Linked DNA regions of Homo sapiens: regions 2, 3, 4 and 5 are each linked to region 1. Evidence: fine-mapped expression QTL. A gene starts in region 1. Each other region holds a variant in brackets. All regions are shown on one strand. Distances are from middle to middle.

The links.
Region 2: its variant is fine-mapped to the expression of ZDHHC14 in whole blood (TOPMed, PIP above 0.99).
Region 3: its variant is fine-mapped to the expression of ZDHHC14 in whole blood (TOPMed, PIP above 0.99).
Region 4: its variant is fine-mapped to the expression of ZDHHC14 in whole blood (INTERVAL, PIP above 0.99). The same link has a PIP of 0.9 or more in lung.
Region 5: its variant is fine-mapped to the expression of ZDHHC14 in pancreas (GTEx, PIP 0.94).

The regions. Positions count from the first base shown.
Region 1 is chr6:157,379,257-157,384,358 of GRCh38, forward strand. It overlaps ZDHHC14 (zDHHC palmitoyltransferase 14), which reads left to right and starts at 1,934. Exons shown (of 9, transcript NM_024630.3): 1 at 1,934-3,010. The coding sequence starts at 2,766. It overlaps LOC124901446, which reads right to left and starts at 1,835. Exons shown (of 1, transcript XM_047419644.1): 1 at 58-1,835. The coding sequence starts at 1,445. The coding sequence ends at 555. RefSeq lists enhancers at 258-870, 1,482-2,093, 2,852-2,991 and silencers at 1,072-1,151, 1,312-2,201, 2,712-2,761.
Region 2 is chr6:157,556,825-157,561,926 of GRCh38, forward strand. All of the region lies in intron 2 of ZDHHC14 (zDHHC palmitoyltransferase 14), which reads left to right. Among named protein-coding and RNA genes, the nearest start is that of MIR3692, 30 kb to the left of the region's middle. RefSeq lists enhancers at 1-196, 1-680, 4,584-4,713, 4,991-5,102, 5,074-5,102. The variant C/T (reference allele first, on the strand shown) is at 2,216.
Region 3 is chr6:157,541,712-157,546,813 of GRCh38, forward strand. It overlaps ZDHHC14 (zDHHC palmitoyltransferase 14), which reads left to right. Exons shown (of 9, transcript NM_024630.3): 2 at 874-1,034. Among named protein-coding and RNA genes, the nearest start is that of MIR3692, 15 kb to the left of the region's middle. The variant T/C (reference allele first, on the strand shown) is at 2,822.
Region 4 is chr6:157,671,385-157,676,486 of GRCh38, forward strand. It overlaps ZDHHC14 (zDHHC palmitoyltransferase 14), which reads left to right. Exons shown (of 9, transcript NM_024630.3): 9 at 1,340-5,102. The coding sequence ends at 1,738. Among named protein-coding and RNA genes, the nearest start is that of MIR3692, 140 kb to the left of the region's middle. The variant A/T (reference allele first, on the strand shown) is at 2,146.
Region 5 is chr6:157,402,870-157,407,971 of GRCh38, forward strand. The region is part of intron 1 of ZDHHC14 (zDHHC palmitoyltransferase 14); the gene reads left to right. Among named protein-coding and RNA genes, the nearest start is that of ZDHHC14, 24 kb to the left of the region's middle. The variant G/T (reference allele first, on the strand shown) is at 2,919.

The sequences.
Region 1 (5,102 bases):
GGAAGGACTTTTTAAAAGCATAACCATAATGCCAGAAAAATTCGGTTTCATTGAGAATAAGAGTGGGAGTCTTTTTTAATGCCATCAAATCAATGGATCTATTATATTAATTGGACACCCACAGAAAAGGTGCTTGCAATAAACAGAATAAGAATAATACCCCGTTGATCTCATTAGCTAAAGGACAGGAAAGCATATGAGAGCTTTCACTTGAAATGTATGAAGCTTTCCAGTTGGTTTTTTAAAACTAGTCCAGCCACAAATACTTAATTGTCCCTGTAATATGCTTGTCTCTCATACAATATCTAAAATAATTAAAACCCAATTATTATCGTGTGCTTAAGATCCATTCTCCCTAGACTCTAACCGGCTTTGGAATGGACCCCTGTAAATTTCACTTGTATTCAAAACTCCTTGTAATTGCATGTCATACTCTAATTGCTATTCCCATCACTTTTTCCTTACCACAGCTCCTCCCAACTGGCCCTCTTGGATAAGCCAATCTCATCCCCCTTCGACACTCCTCACTGAGGCACGCTTTGTAAGGGACATACTTAGGGCTCTGGGTTCGATGCCATCTCTACTACTTGGGAGCTTTGTGATGTTTGGCCAGTAGTTAAGCTTTCTCTAAGCTGGATACAATAATGCCTCACCGGGTTCCGGCGAAGATTAGACAAAGAACATGTGTAACGTGCAAACTGCCCAGTACAGAGAAGGCACCGTTCCCCACAACCCCCTTTGTTGGTTCCCATCTCCCACCACCTAGCCCCAGAACGCCCAGCACCACGCCTCTCCTGCCCTTGTCGCGGGGGATGCAGGGACTTGTAGTTTCTAAGGCCCCGAGTCGTGCTTCTCCTCGGCGCAGGCCTGCGGGCGGAAGAACTACACATCCCAGTGGGCTGTGAAAGGAAAGTGGGGCTCGGGAAATTGAGCATCCCTGCCCAGCTGCCTTCGTTTTCTGCGGCCCCGGGGCTATGCCCACCTCTGCGGGGGCTCGGACCCGCGGCAACGCCTGGGAGGGCGCGAGCGAGCAGAAGCCCCAGGCTCCGGCCGTCCCAGGGCCGCGCCCGCAGCTCCTCCTGGGCTGTCGGGTGGGAAGGGGGGAGGCGCAGGCGGGAGAGGAGAAGCACGCGACCCCTCCGCTGCCGAGGGGGCTCCACGGGGGAATGGAGGGAGAAATAAAGCGAGCAGCTGTAAACGTCCGTGGGGAGAAGTGGAGACCGAAAGAGCTGGGCGGCAGCAACCCAAAACCTGGCCTCCAAGGGCTTATACTCCGGGAGGGAGGCCGGGGCCGGAGGGGACCCTGACCGCTTCCTCTGCCCTTCTTTCTCGGCCCGGAAGCCGGCCGAGCCGGGCCCCGAGACCCTCGCCCGCAGCCCGGTCCCGAAGTCAGGCCGGCCTAGGGCCGCCCCACCCCATCCTGGCACCCGGCACCCCCAGCCCATTTCTCGGGCATCACCAGAGTCCCCGGGCGACGCGACCACGCGCCCAGCTGGGGAGGAGGAAGAAGGGAGGCGCAGGCCGGGGAGGGTCACCTCCGCGCCGCGGCTCCTCAGGTCCCGGGGAGTCGCCAGGAGTGGCTTGCCGGTGGCCGTGGGAATGAGCGTGTCCCGAGGCGGCAGCTGCTGCGCGGGATAAACCCGGAAGAAGCCGCGAGACGGACTGAAGTCGGCCAGGAGCGCACTGCGCGGCGGGGCCGCGGGCGCCCGACCCCATCCCTACTTGGGCGATGCCACAGGGAGCCCCGCGCCTTCCACACCCCAGGGCGCCCGCCCGAGGGGGCTGGGGCTGGAATCTCGCTGCGCCGGTGCCCTGGCTTCGCGGGCGAGGAGGAGGAGGAGCAGGAGGAGGAGCCGCGGGTGAGGCGCGAGGCCACCGCCCACCCGGCCCGGAGGAGGCGGACCCACTCGGAGCGCCGCGCGCGCGCCGGGCTGAGCCTTGCAAACAAGTGTCTGTGCTGTGTCCCCGCGGCCCTCCTCGCGCCGGGGCCGCTTCCTCCGGGTAGGAGGGAGCAAGGGAGCCCTCGCCGCGCGGCCCGCGAGCCGCCGCCGCCCTCGGCCCGCGCATCCCCGCGCGGGGGCCGCGGATTCGACTAGGCTGCCAGGCGCAGCGACACCGGGTCGCGGTGCGAGCGGCGCCCCGGCTCTCGCCGAGAGGCTCCTGACAGAAAAACGTGCGTGGTTGTCCCCACCCCTGGGAGGGGTTGCCGGTGCCGCGCGCGGCCGCCCAGTCGCCAGCGCTCTCTCCTGGGAGGATCCGCTGCCGGAGGAAGGAGTGGACCCAACCTGGCCGCGCCGCAGAAGTGGCTCCCGAGGAAGCCGGCGCCGGGGCCGCCGCCTCGTGTCCCCTCGGGGCGCAGTGCTCGGGGGTCGGCGGGCCAGAGCCGAGGCGCGGCCGGGGAGCCGGGGGCTGCGGGGCCGAGCGGGCAGCCGCGCGAGGGGGCGGGCGCTCGGCGACCCGGGGGCCGGCCGGGCTGAGCCCCGCGCCCCGGGACGCGGGCTGGAAGCGACGGAGGAGTGCTGCCGCGGGCTGCGGACCAGCGCCGTCCCCTCACGGAGCGGGGATTCTGCTATGACAGTTGGGCTCCCCGGAGGGTTAACCTGGGTGTCCTCGGCAAAGTTGTCGCCGAGCCGGGAGCCCGTGTAGGGGCCGCGGCGCCGCGGCTCGGGGGGCGGCCGGGCGGCCGGCGGCGGTCGTGGCTCGGCGGGGCCCGCGCGGCCGGGGGGCTCCTGGGGGTGTGCGCCCCCAGCCGGCTGCCCTCGTGGATGCCTCCCGGCGGCGGCGGGCCCATGAAAGACTGCGAGTACAGCCAGATCAGCACCCACAGCTCCTCCCCCATGGAGTCGCCCCACAAGAAGAAGAAAATCGCGGCCCGGAGGAAATGGGAGGTGTTCCCGGGAAGAAACAAGTTCTTCTGTAACGGGAGGATCATGATGGCCCGGCAGACGGGCGTCTTCTACCTGACGCTCGTCCTCATCCTGGTCACTAGCGGACTCTTCTTCGCCTTCGAGTAAGTGGTGGCGACCGCTCCCCCGACGCCGCACTCCCCTGGTCTCCCCTGTCCCCCGCCCCTCCTCGGGCTGCTTTCGTTTTCTAGAAGTCTTATCTACTGTAAATTGTTATATAATGCCAGTCTGCGCTCCCTCTTTTTTCTTTTAAAGGTCTGATTGCTTTTGGGCCCCCGGAAAGAACGCCGTTCTGGGCTGGGCTTCTGGGAGCAGGGAGGGAAGGGGTCCACTTGCAAGGGGGGCCAGGCCTTGCCAATCCAGGTGGCGGATGGGACCCAGCAGGTGGGGCCGCCGGTCCCTGATCCTTGGGGCGCTCTCTACCGAGTTTGGGGACCCAGCAAATCAGCCCAGATGTAGCCTGCCGTGGGAAGGTGGGGTGCGATAGATTCCTAAGTCAGGGATACATGGAACTGACTTTTTCCCCCTTGCTGACAACATATAGGGCATCTTCTTAAGCTCAGTTGACTGAATCTCCCATGTAACTTCGACGAATAATTGAGGAATCTTGGCTATTTCAGGTTTCAAAGTGTCGGCTGCCTAGTGTGCCCTGGATAGATCATTGCATTCTCCAGCCTCCTACATGCTCACTCTGGATTAACAATTTCTTATTTGCCATGAGGTTTCTAAACTCTTCACTTTCAAAAAGGTTGCAATAAAAGGTGTCCAAAACAAACAATTTGGGAACATGTGAAAGGAGACCTTAGGTCTGTTAAGGAAGAGGATGACACTACGTGACAACTTCCGATTCCAGAAACAGTCTGGACTTCAGGGATTATATCTGGGGGGATAAAAAGCGCATGCAAGTCTTCACCGTTTTCAGGAAAATCAAATTGGCCAGTAGCAACTGTCCTCCTGCCAACTAATGAAAGGTCTTCTTATTTATTAGCAGTGATTAGATAAAGCAGTTAAACCACATTCCAATCAATTTTGGTTGCTTTTTTTGCATCCAACATTTGGAATGCAACTCCTTATGTAATTTCTGGTATCCTATGTTCAATGAAAGGTGGAGTTACTTTTTTCCCCTCAGAATTTAAAGAAAGCAATATATTTATAGGGAGCTCTTCTTTGGGCTTCCCAAATCCTGGTTATTATTGGGCTTGATACTCCTTCAGTCTCCGCCTCCTCCTGTTGGGTAGGCTCAATTAAAACCTTTTGAATTTATTTACTTTTGTTTCTGATTAGGATTAATAGGCTCTAATTTTGTGCCTGGCTTTTGCTCTTCCAAATGCTGTCTCAATTGGAAATGAATGATCTCTTGACAACGTAATACTTGTCGCTCAAAGCCCTCTGACTCTCAGGAGAAACGTTTTGTATCTGGACACTGTGCGCTGATTAGCAGTTTTAAGAGGACTGAGTTAGACCAGGCGATGAGAAGGATCTCTGATTTAAGCGAATTCCCCTTCCCCAGTCCTTCTCACACACAACTCCTCTTCCCCATTTCCGATGGTATGTGCAGTTCCCGGGTCCCCCTTGATGTTTAGGTTCTGTGTCTGTTTGACACTAGTAGGTAGAGTCAGTGGGGAGACCTGTGGACGGGAGGGGAAGGGTGTGAACAGGCATTCAGAGTGGCAGGGAGACACACTCTACTCATGCTGCTGTTGCTCCCATGGGCCCCCATTGAGAGCAGCCTCTTGTCCTTACAGACCTTGGAAACTGGAAGAAGGGGCATAGAGGTTCCCCATGAGTTTACGTTATCTGTTAGGATGAACACTGGCACTGGAAGCGTGATGCCATGTGGTTTAACAGAAATGCCATCTCTCTAATGGTGAATTTAGTTACAGGTGGTCCTCTAGTTGCAGAGTATTAACTGTGTTCCTACAGTTTTTTAAAAAAAATCTTGAACAGATCCAAATTGGCACTTTTGCTCTTTTTAGCGATTTTAACTGTGGAGAAAATGGGTTAATTTTGTGATTCTGTTGCAGAGCTTCAGCCACAAGTGTGCTCCATGGAGGATGATGAATATTTCATTTTCTGTATATACCCAAGTCCCCACTGTATGCTTAGGGATCCCCCCAGTTATTACTTAACATCTTTTATTTTCTTCATTCAAACATAGCTTCTAACCAAACCATCATAAATTCATTTTCGTTTCTT
Region 2 (5,102 bases), 180 kb after region 1:
CCCGGGCGGGTTCCAGGCGAGCTGAAGAGTGCTGACTCTGGTGGAGAAGCCAGTGAGAGGTGGGGCTGATGAGGAGGAAGAGTTGCGGGCACTGAGGGGCTCGGGTTAGAGATGAGGCCAGGCCTGTATCAGGGAACTGGAGCGCAGAGGGATCCCTCCAAGAGACACTGAGGGAGGACTCAGTCCTCTTTCTCCACGAGGGAAAGGCCGAGAGCCTGGACCAGACCATGCCACTCCGGGCTGTGTCCTGGGGAGGCCGCTCAGCCCTCCAGCTGCAGTCACCTTCTCTGAACCAGGGGCAAAATAGCACCACCTGAACTGCCGGGCTGCTCGGAGAATGACATGAAATATTGCACCTGCGGGCCTAGCACAGCCTCTCGCACGCTGTAGCAGGAGAGGAGGATTTGCTAGTGGTGACTAGGTCAGGGCAGAGTGGGAAATTGCAGCCAAATTAAACAGAGGGGCAGGGCCAGCACCACGGGCGGGCAGAGGACCTGTGCCAGGCTGGTGGCTCTGGGAGGGTTCTGCCAGGCGTCAGGATTGGTAGGGGTGCCTGTTCTGATAGAAGGGAAAAGAAACTTGACTTTTGCCATGTTAGGATTTTAGTCTCCAATGGCTCATCCTATAATATATATGGATTTTATAGACATGGACAGAAAGTGCACAGTTGATTTTCACATTCGGCAGAGGTGAGTCGTTGGTTAGATGTGTCCAGCATGCGTTAGATGGAAGAATGAGATGAAAACAAAACGTTATTTTAGGGGCAAGACTTTGGTTGTCCTTATTTGCAAATTTAGCTCTAAGAATAACTTCAAGACAAGGAAGGGGTTTGTGGTCCACCTCTTGTCAGCTGGGTCCATTGCTATCTGCAGACTTCCTCGTTTCATTTCTGTAACCACTGAGAGGAGTGTGAGCAATAGATGGCTCTCAGCTCAGTGCTCCCAAGCAAATAGACTAGCAAAGGAATGGCGGCCACTCCCCTGTGGGAGGCCCATGCTGTGCAATCCGGGCAGAGTACTGGGGACTGCTCTCACTTCCGTCACCCTTATTGGGATAAATAGTGAATTTCCCCTGATTTCCAATGAATGATTTTGATTGGCCAAGCCAGCGCTGTCCAGTAGTCTATAATGTGAGCCACACATGCAAGCCACACATGGTAAATTTTCCAGCAGCCACTGTATAATAGTAAAAAGAAGCAGGTGAAGTTCACTTTAATAGTATGTTTTATTTAGCCCAGTTATTGGGAGTATGATCATTTGAAAAGTAATCAATATGTAAAGATATTTAAAGTATTGAGATATGTTACATTCTCTTTTTTTGTACTAAATCTTTGAGATCTAGCCACAATATGTGTGCCCAAGAGCCCCCTGCAGACAGTGGCCAGCACCTTGGACAGCATAGATCTAAACTCCTCAACCGACATGCTGCCATTCCCAGAAATGGCTGATAATTACTCTGAGCCAGGTGACATTCATGTCCCCCTGATCCCCTTTTGACAGATGCCTGGTATTCTGATGGTTCATTTCTGACCTGGCTAGTCTGCATTACACAGGGAAACTGTTCAAGAGCCATGGATCACCCAGAGCGCCCACAGGTAGGCCGTTCAGTGACAAGAGTAGCCAATCGAGAGGGCTGACACCCAGCTGTTACCAAGTCTAGAGGAAAACAAAACTAATGACTCTGGTGCAAACATGGAATCCAATTTTGTGGAGAGGAGGAATTTCTAATATAAGAAAAGCAATGGCCCATCAGTAAAGAAAGATTGGATTCAGGCAAAAGCAATGAAAGACTCAGAATTGTGTTTTTGGTTTTATGTCTTCTGTTTGGGATCCTCATTTCAGGCCCTTATGATTCTGTTTTTCCACTTGACAGTGCACAGGGTGGTTGTAAGGAGTCATTACTAAAACAAAAATGATTGGGATGGCATTTTGCAAAAATCACCAAGTGAACTTTGGTGGTAAAAAAAAAAAAGCAAACAAACAATAAAACAAAGTTCAAGTAATGTAGATCAGAGATTCCTCTTCCCTGCTGTAGGAACTTTCTAGGGGAGAAGCATCTGGAAGCAGGACTTGCAGGCACAGCTGCTCAGCCCCCAACCTCGGAGGGTGGATTTCCCCCCAGCTCTCTAATACAAATGAAAGTGAGCCCTTTGAGTCTAATCACACTTCCCAACTCTTACAGCTCAAAACACACAAACAATGAGCTTTTTCAAGCT[C/T]CCCATGAAGCTCTGCCGAGATAAAAGCAGTTAACAACCACTCTTCCATGATGATAAATGGTTGTTGGTTTTCTTTAATCAATATTTTAATAACTATTTGCACACTTTGACAATTATGACTACAGAGAGACTGATGGTGATTACAGAAGCAGATTGCAAAGGTGATTCACGAGGATGTGGTGGTCGGCCATCTCTCTGGGACAAGTGGGCTTTAGCCGGGAACCTGCTGCCCCACAGGCTTCTGAAGCAGGTGTACTGTAGCTATTGCGTGGGCAGCTGATGTGGCAACAGTCGGCCCCGCTTCCTGGCTGACGCGCTCTTCTCCAGGACAGCTTTGCTCCCCAGCAAGTGCAGCAAAAATTCACTCCAGAATCAGTCACTTGCCTCTTTCCGTGGGCATGACTTTAGAGCCATTGGCTTTAGAGCTGAGTTGGCCACCACCCTGTGCCTGCATGAGTGGAAAGAATCCGCTCAAGCTGGAACTGCCCTCAGGTCTCCCAAGGAGAGCCCAGCCACCCTGCCATCTTGAAGGGCATCTTCCTGGAATAACAGCATGCTCATGTTTCCTGGCACTTCTTCTCATTCTCAGTTAAAGACATACTCCATTCATTGTTTTCACTGTTTTGTTTTTCCCCACTTCAAGCTCCAGGTTGTCATGAATACTATTTTGGAGTTGGACCCATTATAAATGTTTTGTCCAGAAAAGAGTCTGGAAGGAAAGCTCTGAAACGTCTGGATTTACAGAGAGAGAATTAGGAGCTGTCTTTCTACATTGTGTCAAGTTTTAGAAATAAACATGAAGAACCAAAATAATAAAATGATGGAAAAAATTCACTGTGAAAGAAGTTGAAATAGGCCCCCATGGACAGGGCTGCAGGGAGCAAAATAGAAACCTTACTTGAAAATAAACATGAAGATGTTCATGATAGAGTTATTTATAATAGTGTAAAGGAAGTAGAAGCAATTTCTATGCATACCAGGAGGGAAATGGATACACGAATTACACTATACGTCTATGATGAATTACACTATACCTTTCCACTCATGCAGGCACAGGGTGGTGGCCAACTCAGCTCTAAAGCCAATGGCTCTAAAGTCATGCCCACGGAAAGAGGCAAGTGACTGATTCTGGAGTGAATTTTTGCTGCACTTGCTGGGGAGCAAAGCTGTCCTGGAGAAGAGCGTGTCAGCCAGGAAGCGGGGCCGACTGTTGCCACATCAGTTGCCTACACAACAGCTACAGTACACCTTCTTCAAAAGCCTGTGGGGCAGCAGGTGCCCGGCTGAAGACCACTTATCCCAGAGAGATGGCCAACCACCACGTCCTCGTGAATCACCTTTGCAATCTGCTTCTGTAAACGCCACGTTGTTAGAACGTCTTAAAATATTGATATCAAAGATATCTAATGGCTTATAAAAGTTATCCTTATACAATTTCAATGAAAATATGCAAAATACAAAATTGGATGTACATTGGGATCTTAATATATATAGGAATTATAAGGAAATATAAACAAGTTTTTTTTTGTGATTGGACTGGCAAGTAATTTTAGTTTTTTTCTCTGTACGTTTCTGATATTCCCTATGATGAGCATGTGTTACCTTTATAATTAGAAGAAAAAAAATCAGTAAATGTCATTACATAAACTCTAGCATTAATAGATATGCATTCAGCAAACATTTATTAAGCAGTACTTCTTACTCATTGCCTTGGCCTTGGCAAATCACGAATTCTCTCTAGGGGCTTTGTGTTTTCATCTGGATAATGGGATCCCACGGCCTTGCCTGACTCACAGAAGCATTATGAGGAACGGATGCATTAACCTGAAGAAGCTGTGAAAATAGCAGATTGCTTATCCAAGCACAACATTATGAGGCGTGGCGTGTCTAATCACGAACCCACTAGAACATGAGAAAGAAGAAATTGAACAAGACTGTAATGAGTTGTTTGGAATGGAAGCCCATAAGAAACTAAAACCAAAAAATAGTCAGCATTTAAATGCAGAGTGCAGAAGGACATTTCGGGGAGCCCAGGTCCTCAGAGCGTGGGGGTGTTAGCTGCCCTGTGCAAGGCGGTCCTTTATTGGAAATCGCCTCAGAGAGCATTGCTGAGTGTGGCTTCTTGCAACTACACCTGAGAACGACATTCACTCTGCTTCATTGAAAACAATCTATCCCGTGTGTGGAAGAAGCATGCCTTGCTGGGGTCAGGGCCAGGGACAAAGCTCAGAGGCCATGCTGAGTTTTCATCAAACACCTGCTGAGCAGCTGGCACGTGCCAGGACACGGTCTAGGCTGAAGGCTGCCATCGTAGTGCAGAATAGAATCCCGTGGAGGTTGGAAATGTTTACCTGCTTGCTTTTTTTCTTACCGTGTGTATTATTTTCAGTAATAAAATGTATACATATACAAGTGAGCACCTTCCCCTGGAAATTCTGACTCAGCAGGTAGAGTGTCCGACGGGCGCGCATGTGAGACCTGCTGTCCCGGCGCTCAGATACACATGGGGGACAAAAATGACAAAGCAGCCACCCTCAGTTTATAATTAGGAAACAGAAACTATACACGCACACCTGGCACAGAGCAGGTGCTCTCACCCAGACCTCTTGAATTGTTGAGTTGAATTTATTTATTTATTTGAGATGGAGTTTCACTGTTGTCACCCAGCCTGGAGTGCAGTGGCGTGATCATGGCTCACTTTAACCTCCACCTCCTGGTTTCAAGTGATTCTGCCTCCACCTCCCAAGTAGCTGGGATTATAGGTGTGCACCACCACACCCGGCTATTTTTTGTATTTTTTGTAGATAAGTGGGGTTTTCACCATGTTGGCCTCCCAAAGTGCTGGGATTACAGGTGTGAGCCACTGTGCTGGGCCCTGAATTTAAAA
Region 3 (5,102 bases), 160 kb after region 1:
GGGGCCACGGTAAGAACTGCTCCAGCTCTAGAATACCTGGATCTGAGACCAAATGTCAGACACTGGTTCCCAGGCTGGCTCGTGTAGAGTTTAGTCTGTCCCAGTGGCACTTCTCCCTGACTCATAACAATCCCTGCTTCACGTCAGCATGTCAGACTGACAGCAGTGAAAAGGTCGAGTTAAGAGTTGGGCCATGTTCATCCATTGATAGCTCAGATGCCCTCTGGAAAAGCATGAGATGATTCTATTCCAGCTGCTGAAATCCCTTAAATCTTCTTCCGAAACCTGCCTGCAAGTCCATTTCCATAGCTCATTCACTTTGGAATAGATTACCTCCAGAACATGGAAAATTGGTTTCTTGCCCTTTGAAAGTGTGTGTACAGTCCTCAGCGTTTGGTGCTGGCTGAAAGTTCCCGAGTCATTTGACCCAAGTGGGAAAGGCTGGCTCTCATGAAGATCATTCTAAATTGGTGTCTTCTTCTGTTATGTAATCCCAGGGGAGGGCAGGGGGATCTCATAGACTCCCGAACCGTGTTTACAGCACAGAGGACACGTGTCTATTTATACAAGCTCTGTGCGTCTTAGACTGATTATACAAGCAGGACTATTTTCATTCTTCTGCCAGCATCTTCCTGTAAGAGCAGAGGGCTTGGGCGTCATACTGGGGAGTGGGGGTTCAATTGTCTGTAAGACAGAACTGCAGACCTCCCCAAACGTAAATCTTTCACATAGATGAATTTTTAATGGAAATCAATTTCTCTCCTCCAAATAAGCTTTTGATTTCTTAGAAGATAAAGACTGCTTACTGTTGATTCCTAACATTGTATTTCCTTTCTTTTCCCCTTCTCTCCGGTCTGTCCAACCTGTCGGCAGCTGTCCGTACCTGGCGGTGAAAATCACCCCTGCCATCCCTGCAGTCGCTGGCATCCTGTTCTTCTTTGTGATGGGGACCCTGCTCCGCACCAGCTTCAGCGACCCCGGAGTCCTCCCACGAGCCACGCCTGATGAAGCCGCCGATCTGGAAAGGCAAATAGGTAACACTGAAAGTCTGCCCATGGCCTCTGGTCACTTCCCGCCTGGGCCCAGCTACAGTGGGGACGGCAGGCCGAGGGCTGTGCAGGAGGAGCTGAGCGCTGGGAAGGAAGGAGGCCAGAAGTCAGCGTTCCTTAGCTCGCTGGGTGGGCAGGATGAGCTGAAGAAGAGGTGGGATATAAGGCTGGAGGGACAGGTATCCTGGAGGCAGGACTGCAGGCCCACTCGAGCAAAGCATCAGTGTGAGCTGTGCTTCTGATGTTTCTTTGAAACCCAAGTGTTTGATTCCACTCTACTAAGCAGCCTCCACCCCGAGAGATTACAGTTGTAGGTTGCTGCCCTTTCTCCCTTTTGCAATCCTTGGAGCATGACCAGTTTCCATGATATAAATCTAGGAAAGTTACATCTTAGGCAGCTTTCTTGTTTATCCAGGCCAGGATTGAGAATTTCCTTTATTTAGGTATAATAAACATGTATCTGTGATATGTATTGAGATGAATAGCTTTATTTTTCCTTAGATATTAAAACCTATACTAAAGTTTATTACAACCCATTTTGAAGATATTAAAACAGATCCTAATCCCTTACACAACAAACTTTTACAGTTTTTTTTTTTTAATTAAAAGGAGTGCTTTTTCTTGCTCTTAAAAGTTTGTGATTGTGAATGTATAGCTTTGCTGTGGTGCTTTGGTAAATTTCACAAGCATGGCAGAGGAGCTGTGATGACTTGGTGTGAACATAATGTTTAGGCCTGAAAAATCACTTGGCAGAGATAATTCTCTTCCAGGATTCCTCCTATTCTATGGACTTTCCTTTGCAGCCTTCACTAAAGCTGGAGGGACCTCCCTGTCTACAGTGTAAGAAGATAGAGCTGTGGATCTTGCTGAAAAGTGCCTATTCTGGTCCTACCATTCCCCAAGTACTAAAGCACAGCTTTGTCCTTCTCTCGACATCTGCCTTCATCCTTCATCCCTGCTGCCTGGAAAGGGAGCAGTAAAATGGGAGTGTGTGGAGTGTGTGGTGTCATCTGCTAGACTGCAGCTGTCTTGTGTCCTGAGGTAGGAAGGAGGGGGAGGGAGAAGCAGCAGTGGGCAGACAATCTCTTTCTTAGCCCCTGCATCATGGGATTCCAAGACAGGGCATGCTAGTGCATAATTTTAAGGCTCACATTTTGTAGCACTTTAATCGTTTGTCAGGCCCATCCATGGCTATCACTGCATTTTTTTCCACATCTAAGCCACCTAGTAAGGAAAACTTTATTATTACACCCATTTTACAGATAAGGAAACAAAGCCCCCAAGAGGGGCTTAAATGGGTGAAAGTGGCAGAACTGGAGCCTAGAACCCAGGTTTCCAGATTTCAGACCTTGTTCTTTCCAGCTCCTCATATCATTGAGGAGAGAGAGGGAAGTCAAACCTAGTTTCCTTCAAAACTGTATGGTTTATGCCTACAATATATGAGCAGGTAACTTGAAAATCCTCTTCTCAGTGCAAGGGCCCAGCTCCCATACTGGGGGTGATGCAGTTTCCTGCAGTGATCCCCATCTCCAGGTTAGTGCAGGTGCATCTGCAAAATCAGCACGATTAGGAACAGACTTTCTGCCTTTCTTACAAAGTGGATGAGGCAGGGCACGGTGGCTCATGCCTGTAATCCCAGCACTTTGGGAGGTCAAGGTGGGAGGATCACCTGAGGTCAGGAGTTTGAGACCAGCCTGGCCAACCTGGTGAAACCCCATCTCTACTAAAAATAAAAAAAATTGGCAGGGTGTGGTGGTGCGAGCCTGTAGTCC[T/C]AGCTACTGGGGAGGCTGACGCAGGAGAATCGCTTGAACCCAGGAGGCGGAGGGTTGCAGTGAGCCAAGATGGTGCCACTGCACTCCAGCCTGGGCAACAGAGCAAAACTCTGTGTCAAACAACAACAACAACAACAACAACCAAAAAATAGAATAGTGAGATGCCACTTCACACCCTCTAGGATGGCACTAATCAAAAAGACTGACAATGACAAATGCTGGTGATGATTTGGAGAAACTGGAACCCTTGTACATTACTGGTGGGATTGTAAAATGGTACATCCACTTTGGAAAGCAGTTTCTCAGAATTCTCCAAAAGCTAAACACCATTACTATATGACCCAGCAACTCCACTCCTAGATATGTCCACACAAGGACTTGTATATGAATATTCATAGCTGCATGAAACCTAACAACCCAGATGTCCATCAGAGGATGAACTGATGATCCATATGTGGTATATCCATACAATTGGATTCCATGAAGCAATAAAAGGGAAGAAAAGTATTGATACAGGCTACAACATGGACATTAAAGACATTTGCTAAGGGAAAGAAGCCAGATACAAAAGACTATGTACTGTGTGATTCCATTTGTATAAAATGTCAAAGAAAGCACAAATCTTTACAGACAGAAAGGAGATTAGTGATTTCCTGGGGCTGGGAGGGTAGGAGTGCAGGTTAACTGCACATGACATGAGGGAGCTTGTTGGGATTATGAACATGGTCTAAAATTAAGTCGTGGTGATGGTTGCACAATGCAATAAATTCACTACAAGTCACTGAATTGCACACTTTCTATGGTGACTGCTGTGGTACATAAATTATACCTCTATGAAGATGTAAAAAAAAAAGGAGGAGGAGGCCGGGCGCAGTGGCTCACGCCTGTAATCCCAGCACTTTGGGAGGCCGAGGCAGGCAGATCACGAGGTCAGGAGATCGAGATCATCCTGGCTAACACAGTGAAACCCCGTCTCTACTAAAAATACAAAAAAAATTAGCCGGGTGTGGTGGCACACACTTGTAGTCCCAGCTACTCGGGAGGCTGAGGCAGGAGAATGGCATGAACCCGGGAGGCAGAGCTTGCAGCCGAGATCACGCCACTGCACACCAGCCTGGGCGACAGGGGAGACTCCCCCTAAAAAAAGAAAAAAAAAAGTAGAAGGAGGGTGGGAAGGGAGAGAGGAAAAAGATGGGGTGGAAGAAGCAGAAGGAAAAGAGGAAGGAGAGGGCTTTGGAGGGCCTCAGACATGGGTTTGAATCCTGGCTCACCCTTTCTCTAGTTGCGTGACTTAGGTGAGCGGTGCAGTTTTCTAAACTCTATCCCTCTGTGTTCTTATCTGTGAAATAGGAGTAATGGCATGGATCTTTTGAGGTTCTTTTCAGGATTAGCAATTATAGGAAAAGTGCCTGGCACATTGTAGATGTGTAGTAAATGATCGTTTTTTGTTTTGTCTAATTCTTCTCTTTTCCCACTCAGTTTTCTCTCCACCTTCTACAAATGTACGTTCTCATAAAAAGCTACCTAAGCGTGACAGGAATAAATGGCAGAGCTGGTACAATGTCTTTGGGACCGCTGCCTGCCAGCTTAGCTGTACCTCCTCCAGGCTGAGGAAGGGGTGCAGGCACCTGCAAGCTGGGCTCATTTCCATCACTGATCTAACCCTTCATAAGGAGTCCTCCCGTATACTACTTGGCTTTGGAAGATAAGGTTGTTTCAATGAAATCTTAACACATTTATGTTGTGCTATCTGGCTAAAGAAAGAAAAATGAACAATTAGATTTGGAAACTTTTTATGGTTAGAGTTATTCATTCTAATTATCCGTTGTAGATCTCTTCCTTATAGAAGCCCATAATGGCCCCTTGGAATCAGCCATCTGAGTAATTTATTGAAGATTTGCCAAGGATTTAAACAGCTTTCCCCTGTCTTCAAACTTCTGAGAGGAGTAGGTGGGGAGGAGGAGGGCTCTGGGCTTCAGAGTCTGTTTCAAGGCTCTTGAAATGCCTTACACTTCTCTCTTCTGAAAGAATGTTCCCGATGACTTAGGGTGCAGCTAAAAAGACATCAAAGAATAGCAGCAGGGGGCCAGGGAAGCTGGGGTCACTGGAGGCTTGCTTGGAAACTTCAGTTTCAGAAACTCAGTTTTTACAGTTCACCCAAGGATGATCTGATCGTAAGCAACTGATTTGGGGTTAGAAAAAAATGACAAAAACTGTACTAGAAATCACAGGATCAAAGTGTTGAATTTCTATTAGGGATAGACCTTTCCAGGGATCAAAA
Region 4 (5,102 bases), 290 kb after region 1:
AGTGGAGCAGCCACTTTATAGCTTGAGCACAGAGTCCCGATTTGCTCACCTAATATCCATGTCTGTTCCTCCTTCCCATCAAAACACTGCTCCTGAATCTCACTGAGAAGGTACCGCACAGGCTCAAGTTGAAGATTTATAAGTCCTGTTAAGTCTCTTCTAGCTGTTCTGAAACTTGCCCATAGTTCAAGGAGAGGGTTTGCGGAGCTATCAGGGGTGCCTGTCGCATAGCCTGGAAATGTGCTTACACTATCTTCTTTGCCCAGTGAGCGAAGGGAAACAGAGGACACGAGGCAGATATCATGTGACTTAAGAACGCGTGGAAGAATAGGAAACGTCTTCTCAAACGTGGGCATTCTCAGACCACAGAGGCTTCGGGAATGGCTCTTGAAGCTGTTGGAAATTTAGCAGTGGGGAATTCTAGGCTTTTACCAAACAGTCTTTTCTTTTTTTGGTGGTAAAATAGACATGGCATAATATTTGCCACTTTAACCATTTGTAAGTATAAGTTCAGTAGTATTAAGTCCGTTGATGTTGTTCTGCAACCACCACTACCACCCATCTCCAGGGCTTCTTCATCTTCCATGGCTGGAACTCTGCATGCCTTAAACACCAGCTCCCTCTTCCTCCCGCCCCAGCAGCCACCATTCTTCCTTCTCTCTAAGAACATGACCCTCCAGGGACCTTGTTTGAGTGGAATCACACAGTTATTCGTCTTTTTGTGACTGGCTTGTTTCACTTAGCATGCTTTCCTCAAGGTCCACCCATCTCGTGGATGTGTCCGAATGCACTTCCTTTTTAAGGCTGAATCAGTAACACTGTGTGTCTACACCGCACCTTGTCCCTGCTGTCATCCATCAGTGGACACTTGAGTCACTTTTGACTTTTGACTTACTATCAATAACATTGCTATGAACATGGGTGTACAACTCCTGTATTTTTAAAACAATGTGGTTTAAAAAATGGTTTTCAGCATACAAGAAACAGCCACCCACTGCTGTAGATGGCCTGTGACTCTGTCCAAGAGATTTTTTTAATTATGTCCTTTAAATTGGGAACCAAGACCACTGGCTTCATAACCAGTGGCTGCATGTTATGACTGGGCACCCGTGGTGACTTCATTTGAGCAGAGGCAATTGCAGCACCAGGCGCTGGGTGTCTCTCCCAATGCACCTGGACCACTGTAGGCGCTCCCTGCCTGGCTGACTGAGGTGTCACTAACGGTTTCTCTCTTCTCGCACCCCACCCTCCCCGCCCGTGCCCTGTCCCCATCCCTGTCCCTCCCCACCTCTGCCCCCTCCTCTCCACCTTCTCTTTGCTGGCGCCTCCCGCTCTCCAGTGCGACCAAGACCAGTGCATTCAGAGCACCAAATTCGTTTTGCAGGCTGCAGCCACGCCCCTGCTGCAGAGCGAGCCCAGCCTCACCAGCGACGAGCTGCACCTGCCCGGGAAGCCTGGCCTGGGCACGCCCTGCGCCAGCCTCACACTGGGCCCGCCCACACCGCCCGCCTCCATGCCCAACCTCGCCGAGGCCACGCTCGCGGACGTGATGCCCCGGAAAGATGAGCACATGGGCCACCAGTTCCTGACGCCCGATGAGGCGCCCTCGCCCCCCAGGCTACTGGCGGCGGGCAGCCCCCTGGCGCACAGCCGCACCATGCACGTGCTGGGCCTGGCCAGCCAGGACTCCCTGCATGAGGACTCTGTGCGCGGCCTGGTGAAGCTCAGCTCCGTGTGACCCACATGGCCCCAGGCCGGGGGACACCAGAGGCTCCTCCATGGGCAGCAGGAGTGAGCGGAGGGGTGTGTCCCACAGCGACTTTCCCAGCCAATGCCACGGTGGAGATGACAGCCCCAGGTCTGGGGTACAGAGACCACTTAGGATGGCACAGGGTGGCTGGCCCCGGATGCTGAGAGCTTGGTTTCATTTGAATTTTCTTCCCCAACCTGAGTGCTTTGACAACAATGGAAATAGAGAAGTGGCTGCTTTCTTTTGGTGACCCTCCAGGGGTGGAATCGGAGTGTGTCTGCCCGCCCTTGTGACAGACACACGGAAGGCTTCTGACGCTTGTGGCCAGACTGCAATTGCACTTATGTGTTATGCTACTAATATTTGAAACAGACCTGCCATTCCATTTGTTAATT[A/T]AAAAAAAAAAAAATCCTAAAGGGAAAAAACCGACCAGGTGTGGATCTGCATGCCACGCTGCCGTCTGTGTTACAGTGGTGTTGCTATTTCCAAGGAAGTGCTGCTTTCTTTTTCTTTTTTTAATTTTGTGAATTTTCAAGTGCTGTTTTGTTGGAAGACAGTGCAACGAACTGAGACTAATGGACAGTGTCATCACTCAGCTTACTGGGCTGAGGCGTCTGTGGAGAGGTGGCACCGGGGCTGCAGAGGGCGGCTGGGGTTCCGTCGTGTCGGGTGTCACTTCACCTTCTGTTTGGCCGCTCGATGAGGTCTCGTGTTGAGATATTGTGTGCCACAACCCCCACAGTCTTCACCTCCGTGTGTGATGAAACTTCCCGTGGACAGCCAATAAAATGACGTCCTCTGTTATTTTGGATCTGCGTACGGTTATCCTTAATAGCATAAATGAAAACAAAGTCATCCAGATGGGGAGAGTTTTTCTTGAAATGTCCCTAGCGAGGAATGGTCCCCAGACAACCAAAAGTCAAATCTTTGAACTGGGAGATATTTATAGAATAATTTCTTAGATAAGAGGCAAGTTTTCCATCATTTATTTTCTTTAATTATCTCTTTTTGACACCATCTTAGTGGAATTTGCTCTACGTTTGCAGTTTGCCGTGCAACAGTTGATCGGAAGTAGGGAGAGGGGAGGGGACGCTCAGGGAGAAGGTTCTGTCGGGCGTCTTCTGGGCTTCCTTCTGTGTTAACGTGTCACTCAATCCCAGAAGTGCAACTTGAGGTCCTAGTAAAGGTATCAGAAAATGAGGAGGAGAAATCGGCTTACAGTCTAAGCTGAGATCATGTAGGTCATCATCCTTCCTAGACACTGATCAGAATGAAATTAAGAAAATGACCACTTTGTTCACTTTCATTGGTCACCTAGAAGGGAACGAACTGGCTCTGGACTTAGGGAGTGTGTCACTATGGGGGCAGCCACAGGGGACACAGCAACTCCTCTCCTGGCTTCTTTCCAGACCATAAATCTAACAGCTAAAGCTACTCAAGTTCAAAGCCATGGCCTTGCTCCTTATAACCATATGAAAGACAAGACACATTGACCAATGATACAAGTAACCCAAGTGATTTGCATTTATGGAAAAAGGCTATTACTCCTGAGAAAGAGTTGCCATTTTATATAAAAGAAAAGAAGATAGGAAAAAGAAAAGCACACAAGTTTTATTTGGAATGAAGGCAATTCACAGGTCACAAAATAATTCATGCTGAAAGGGCCTGCAGAGTTCTTGCACTGTGATGTCTTCGAGCCATCTTTATTGTCATGCTGCATGCACGTATAGAAAATGGAATAGGTCCATTCTATGTAGCCATTTTTGATTTTCTGAACCACCTAACTACTTGTACCCACCTGCAATGTGTAATTCATGGGGCAGTGCCCTCCTTACACAACCGCACACGCTCACAGGCACCAACTCACAGGGATTCTCCTTGTCCACGCTACCTGTGAGCCCAAAGTGACAGCCCCACAAAGGAGCTTCCACAACTTCCCAAACCGTCTCTGCTCCTTGCTTTCTTCCACCTGCTCCCCAGAGGCCCCAGGAAGGAGTTGGCCCTGATGAGAACGGTGCTCCATGGGTGACCGCGAATCCGGCTTAGCCCTCACTCCGGTCCCACGTGTGGCCCAGTCCATTCTCAGCTCATTCCCCTGGAAAGCAAGATCATGGTCTTCAGAGGCCTCCCGCTTCTAACATTTCCTAACTCAGTGGTTGCCACTCTCCTGTGACCAGCCCTTCTTCCCACCTCACTGTGAAAAATTCCCAGAAGCCAGGATCACGACTCACTTGTCTTCACATAATGGATATTTACTTAATATTTATTATCAATTTCCCCACCTCCAACCCTGTCCCTGGCACACACTTGGCATCATTTATCCAATAGGGGACTGGGAATTTTGGTGAAGTGAATCAAGGCTATTCAGGGTCAAGAGAGAGATTAACTTGAATGGGCCAATTTGCTAGATAATTAATGTCTTAAAAACCAAAACCAGAGAGAAGCCCACAGCCCTGTCCTCTGTGGCTTGAAAAAGAAACCCAGCATCAGAGGAATGAGCGATGATGCCCCCTGGGGCGCCCACTTCTGTTTGTCAGGAGGGATGGTCGGAGGGGCAGCTCACCTGGCGAGGTGATGGCTCTGCATTTCCCACGAACATATATGTGACATGTACATAAATATAAATACTTATGTTTATAAATGTTGAATGGTTCCTTCTAGCTGTGGCTGAGTAGACGTTGGTGTTTCTAACTTCTTTCAGTGTGTTAGAGATTGATTACATGCTAGCTATAAAAAGTAAAATAAATATTTTACCATGCTATTAAAGCTTGGACCATTATCAAACACACACAAACACACACTCATTCTGCTGTTTAAAAATTCATCTGCGTTCGTTCTCCCAGGAGTGCTCCAGGGAACCACAGGCTTCCCGGCACTTGAAGGCTGAACTGAGCGTGAGTGCCCTGGTCCCCAGGAAGCAGGCGGATGCTGCAGGAAGGTGGCAGACAGCCTGCATCCAGGAGGGCCCCAGGAAGTGGGGATGCTGCAGGAAGGCGGCACAAAGCCTGCATCCGGGAGGGCCCCAGGAAGCAGGGGGATGCTGCAGGAAGGTGGCAGACAGACTGCATCCAGGAGGGCACAGTGACCTGTCACTCCGTTCTGCAGAAATTGGCCCAGCAGTTGCGTTATGCCCAACCAAAAGATGCTCGTTCCAGCTTTCAAATGTGATGATTTCAGCCTGTGAGGACAATGCCATGTCCCCACCCTAAGCCAGCAAAATGCGAAATCTCTGTTCTGGCCCAGAATGGCACAAGGGAGGAGTCTTTGCAGAGTTCCACGCCACCCCCCAGCTTACTGCGGCCTTCACCGGCTCTGTCTAGGATTGCCAGCTGTGGTTCCAAGTGAGGAGCAA
Region 5 (5,102 bases), 24 kb after region 1:
GTGTGCACCAGCACACCTGGCTAGTTTTTAAATTTTTTTATTTTTAGTATAGATGGCATTTCACCATTCTGGCCAGGCTGGTCTCGAACTGGCCACCTCAGGTGATCCGCCCGCATCTGCCTCCCAAAGTGCTGGGATTACAGGCATGAGCCACCATGCCCAGCCTGGCGATATACCTTCTGTTGCCTTCTGAACTGGACTTGTTGCATTGTACAATAAAAAAATTATGCTAATTTTCACCAGAGTTCATGGATTTGGCTTTATTTTAGAGCACCTGCTCTCATTAAAGATGTTAGCACATCAGAGAAAATGTAAATTGAATTTCTAACAAGCACTCTTGGATGGGAAAGGGGTTTTAAACAGAATTTCTTTGTTTTGTCCCTTTCAGCAAATACTATTGTCATGCTCCACAAGCTGGAACAATAACCTACGAAATAACCTGCTAGGTTATGAATGAAAGCATATATTTTGTGAAATTTGTGGTCATTTAGTTGGGTTGAAATGAAATAGTCACTGATGTTTATTTTCTTTATTATTTTCTTCAATGTTTTACCCTTACTCAACCTATGCACCTGGGAAAGGGGAAGGCTGCCAGTTGCTTTCTTCCTGTACCCTACCATGGACCCACAGCCCCTAAACTCCAGTACAATTATTCCCTGCACTATTGTTCTCTGCCTTAAGCATTAGAAAAGGGTTTAGGGCCGGCCTGAGAACTCTGTCTTCATTTGTCACATTGTTTCTTTGGGAAGACACATTCCCAGTTTCAAACAACCAACCTACAAATTAACTTTAGGGGCTGCCTATTCACTAAAAAAGAAGGCTGATTTCTGTAGAGCTGATTAGCTGAGCAGAGCTCATTAGCTTAGCTTAGTTTAGCAAGTATGATCTCCTTAGCTAATGTGACACCATAACATAGACGCTGCCACCCACCGGTGTCAGGAAGCGTGAAAGGCAGTCCAGAAGTGGCAAGCCTCATGGACCCGCCTGCAGGAGGGCAGACCCACTGCGGCTGCTGCTAAACCAACACCAGCAGGTGCCTTGGCAGGTGCTGAGCATGGTGGGCACACAAACGGGAGGACTTTTCCCAGTGGGGCCTGCCTGCACAAGCCAGGTGCTGGCTAAGGGCTGGTAGCTTACTTAACCCACACACTTCCCCCATAGTTGGTACTGTTATTAGTTCCATTTTACAGATGAGAAAACTCAGTGCCATATATCTTTGGAGTCTATTGTACAAAAATAGAATACGTTGAACATGGAAAGTGGCTTTCTATTTATTTATTTATTTTTGAGAGAGTCTCGCTCTGTCACCCAGGCTGGAGTGCAGTGGTGTGATCTCGGCTCACTGCAACCTCCACCTCCCAGGTTCAAGTGGTTCTCCTGCCTCAGCCTCCTGAGTAGCTGGGACTACAAGTGTGTGCCACCATGTCCGGCTAATTTTTGTTTTTCGTAGAGGTGGGGTTTTTCCATGTTGGCCAGACTGGTCTCGAACCCCTGACTTCAGGTGATCCCCTCATCTCAGCCTCCCAAAGTGCTGGGATTACAGGTGTGAGCCACTGTTCCCGGCCGGAAAATGACTCTTTTCTGAAAAATAATTTATGTCCTCCTCAACTAATTCCTAGGGCCTTTATTCAACATCCTTTGCTTTGATAAGACTCCCCAGTGGTGACAGAAGCCTTAGTGGATACTTGGGAGTTGCTTTAGGGAGAGGGTCTCTCCTGTCTCTCTAAAGTGCCCATTTGAGGGGATAAAAATAGCTGTTGACCGTTTCCTAGCAATGAGTCAAGGACAGAAAGTCCCTGGGGCAGGTGGCACTGTGCTTGGTTCATAGATGCTGAATGGAAGCTGGGTCCTTGTCTTTGGTTAGATAACTTGTTTTTAAATATATATTTTTTAATTTTGGAATATTTTAGATTTAGAGAAAAATGTTTAAAATAGCATTACAAAACTTTTTAGTTTGCTTGTTTATATTTCAGCTCTTCCTCATAAGCTCTTTAGCCATTGACTATTTTCTTATTAGGAGTTAAGAGTTAATGAATGGATTCCTTATGCGCTACTGACATTTCAGGAAAAAGGATATGCAAGTAAATTAGAAGCAATGGGTAAGAAAAGCAGCCCTCCCAGGTCCCATTCAGAACATTTACAGGGATGCCTTCAGAAGTGGTGGATTTCAACCTCAGTGGGTAAAGAGAAACAGGGCTGAAGCTCCCGTTTTATTTATTTTTTTCTGCTCATTAAAAATATATATTCTAAGTAGCTCAGGAATATTTTATGTTAGGGTCTAAATTCAGAAATGTGAAACAAGGAGAGAAACCCATCTGGGAACTTTTTTGCACCGCCAAAAGATCCAGCGCAAAACCTCCCCCAGGTGAGCTCTTTTTTTTGAGATGGAGTCTCGCTGTCTCGCCCAGGCTGGAATGCAGTGGCGCGATCTCGGTTCACTGCAAGCTCCGCCTCCTGGGTTCACACTATTCTCCTGCCTCAGCCTCCCAAGTAGCTGGTACTACAGGCACCCGCCACCACGCCTGGCTAATTTTTTGTATTTTTAGTAGAGACGGGGTTTCACTGTGTTGGCCAGGATGGTCTCGATCTCCTGACCTCGTGATCCACCCGCCTTGGCCTCCCAAAGTGCTGGGATTACAGGCGTGAGCCACCGTGCCTGGCCGAGCTCAAAATTTTTTTTAAAAAAAATATTCTTTCCTCTTAAAGTCTGGAAATTTTGGTCAGAAAAACCTCTCCAAGGGTTGATATTAATAATAATGGTAATGATGATGTGGAAAATATGTTGTACTGTTAATAATAATCATGGTGCATTTTTGCATAAGCAACTGTATTTTGAGCAATGATTTACTCAATTATAAGTGATTCTTTATTATAATTGACTAACTGCTTGTCACTTTATAAGTGAGGCTCTAGTTAGC[G/T]CTTTGATGTAATGACTGGCCTTAAAAATAAAGTGCTATGCAAGCAAAGACATTTTGTCATGAATTTGTAATGATTTAGTGTGATGGAGCGGGTGTGCTAACATGAAGATTAAATCATGGATGGGCTATAAATGGGGAATTCTGGATGGTTATTCCCCATCCCCCACCCCTGCTCGGACCTCCCCAATTTTTCCATCTTTGTTGCCCCTTCTAAATAGGATAATGCCACCCTTGACAATCATTTGTTTGAGTTAAACCTTGTCCTTTTGAGGGCATGCTTTTAAAAATATTAATTCCTAGCGGGAGAGGTAATGCATGAAGTTTATATCGTATCAGCTCCAGAGCGTGGATTAGCTCATCACTTTCCCACCAGGCCTGAGGCCCTGAACAGGAAGCTGCAGTTGGGGAGGGAGTGGGGTGATTCAGAGCTTGGAATCCTGGAGGACCGGGTGCTGAGAGGTGCACAGGAGGGAGAAAGAAGGTTGAAAGGATTTGAAAGTCGAAGGGATCCGTGTATCTGTTTGGCTATTCTTGAACATGTGATGTCTCCTCAGGTATTGCTATAAGTAGGATCATAATTCTCAGATTGAGGTTATGATGTTGATAGATTAGGACATTGAATCGTACCTTTGGTTGAATATGATTGCAGAAAAATATTATCTCAGAGAGCGCTGGATGGAATTTGGCTTGCTGAGCTAGTGGAGTATTCCCAGCTTCAGAAGAAATATCTGGTTAAGCCAGGGGTTCCCCAGCAGGGTTCTGACTGCTCCATTGCTAACTTATGGGGCACCTTCAGGTAAATGTAAGAAAGTCACTCCTTCTTCAAAATGGTTTATTTCTGCTGTCAGAAAATTATCATTATATACATATTTTTATTAAAATAAGACATTTCCCTCTGCTGGAAAAATTTCAAACTAAGGATCTAATTCCATGAGGTCTACAGTGTAAATGGTGCCGTTACTTGTAAAGCCCTTGTTCAGTGAACAAACCGCGCAGCTGAACATGCAGCCTTGCTTCCTTTTTCTCCAGTCCTCTCTTCTCCATTTCTTCAGCAATGCTGAGTCCTCACTGAGCTAATTGCCTGACATGCAGAAGAGCCTCTCTTTGTCTGCGGGTCAGAGAGGCAGTGAGAAGGGGGATAGAGTCTTGCTTGTCAGGCTCCAGCTACGAGGCATTAAGACATGCACCGGCTTTTATTTTAGCATTGCCGTTCTCAACCTTGGATTAGAAGTGCCCTGGATGTATAAAAGAATTTCTATAAATGTAATGGACACACATTATGGGCTAGGAATTTTATACGTCTCACTAGTCCTTACAACAAATGACCCTATAATGTAGGTGGTTTCGTGGCTCAAAGAGGGTGGGTGACCAGTCCACAGCCGCCCACCTAGTAAGCAGCAGAACTGAGATACGGACTTGGGCTGCTGGGTTGCAGAGCTGCTGGCGTCCCTGGTGGGTTTCCACACCAGGCCACCCTGTAGCCCCGCCCCTGGGAAGGGAGTGAGTGGGACCCTGCCGTCCCCTTTCCTACATGGCCGCTGTGTATAGGCAGCAGCGCAGAGGTGGTCTCTGGGTAGGGAACCCTCTGCCTCCTAGGATTCATTGGGGATGAAAGTCGCAGCTGTTTTATACTCTTCTTAAATTTTGCTTTCCTGTTAAGCCAAGATTTACTGGACACAAGAAAACTTCCCAGCAGTCCCCTAGAAGGAAAACTAACTCTTGGTAGTCTTCCCATTAGCAAATAAAAGTCCCCAAATCATTTTTGTAGACTGCCCAAACCAAGGCACTTTTCATCTGAGAAGACACAGCAATTGTCTCAGCTGTAAAGTAAAAGAGAATTAAAAAAAGGTGGTCTCTTTTGAAAATTCCTGTTGGTGCTTTGGCCATGTGATTACAATGAAATTGGTGTGCCTTCATCTTCAAAGGGCAGAACTCGGTGCTTATATGTTCATTTCATTGTAGTCTGATGGGACAGACACTTCTTGTTGGCCTGTCCTCATGCTCCATATTTATTCCAGGTTGATTAGGATGGCATGTGAACTTAGAACTAAATAAACCTTGCTTGGATGGGTCACCTGGCTAAGTAAACTTACCATGAACTTCTCAGAAGTAAAATAAGCAGGAAGCAGGTTTTTAAAATGCGAGTCCTCTATGCTCTTTTAAGTGCTGCCGTGTTGCTAGGAA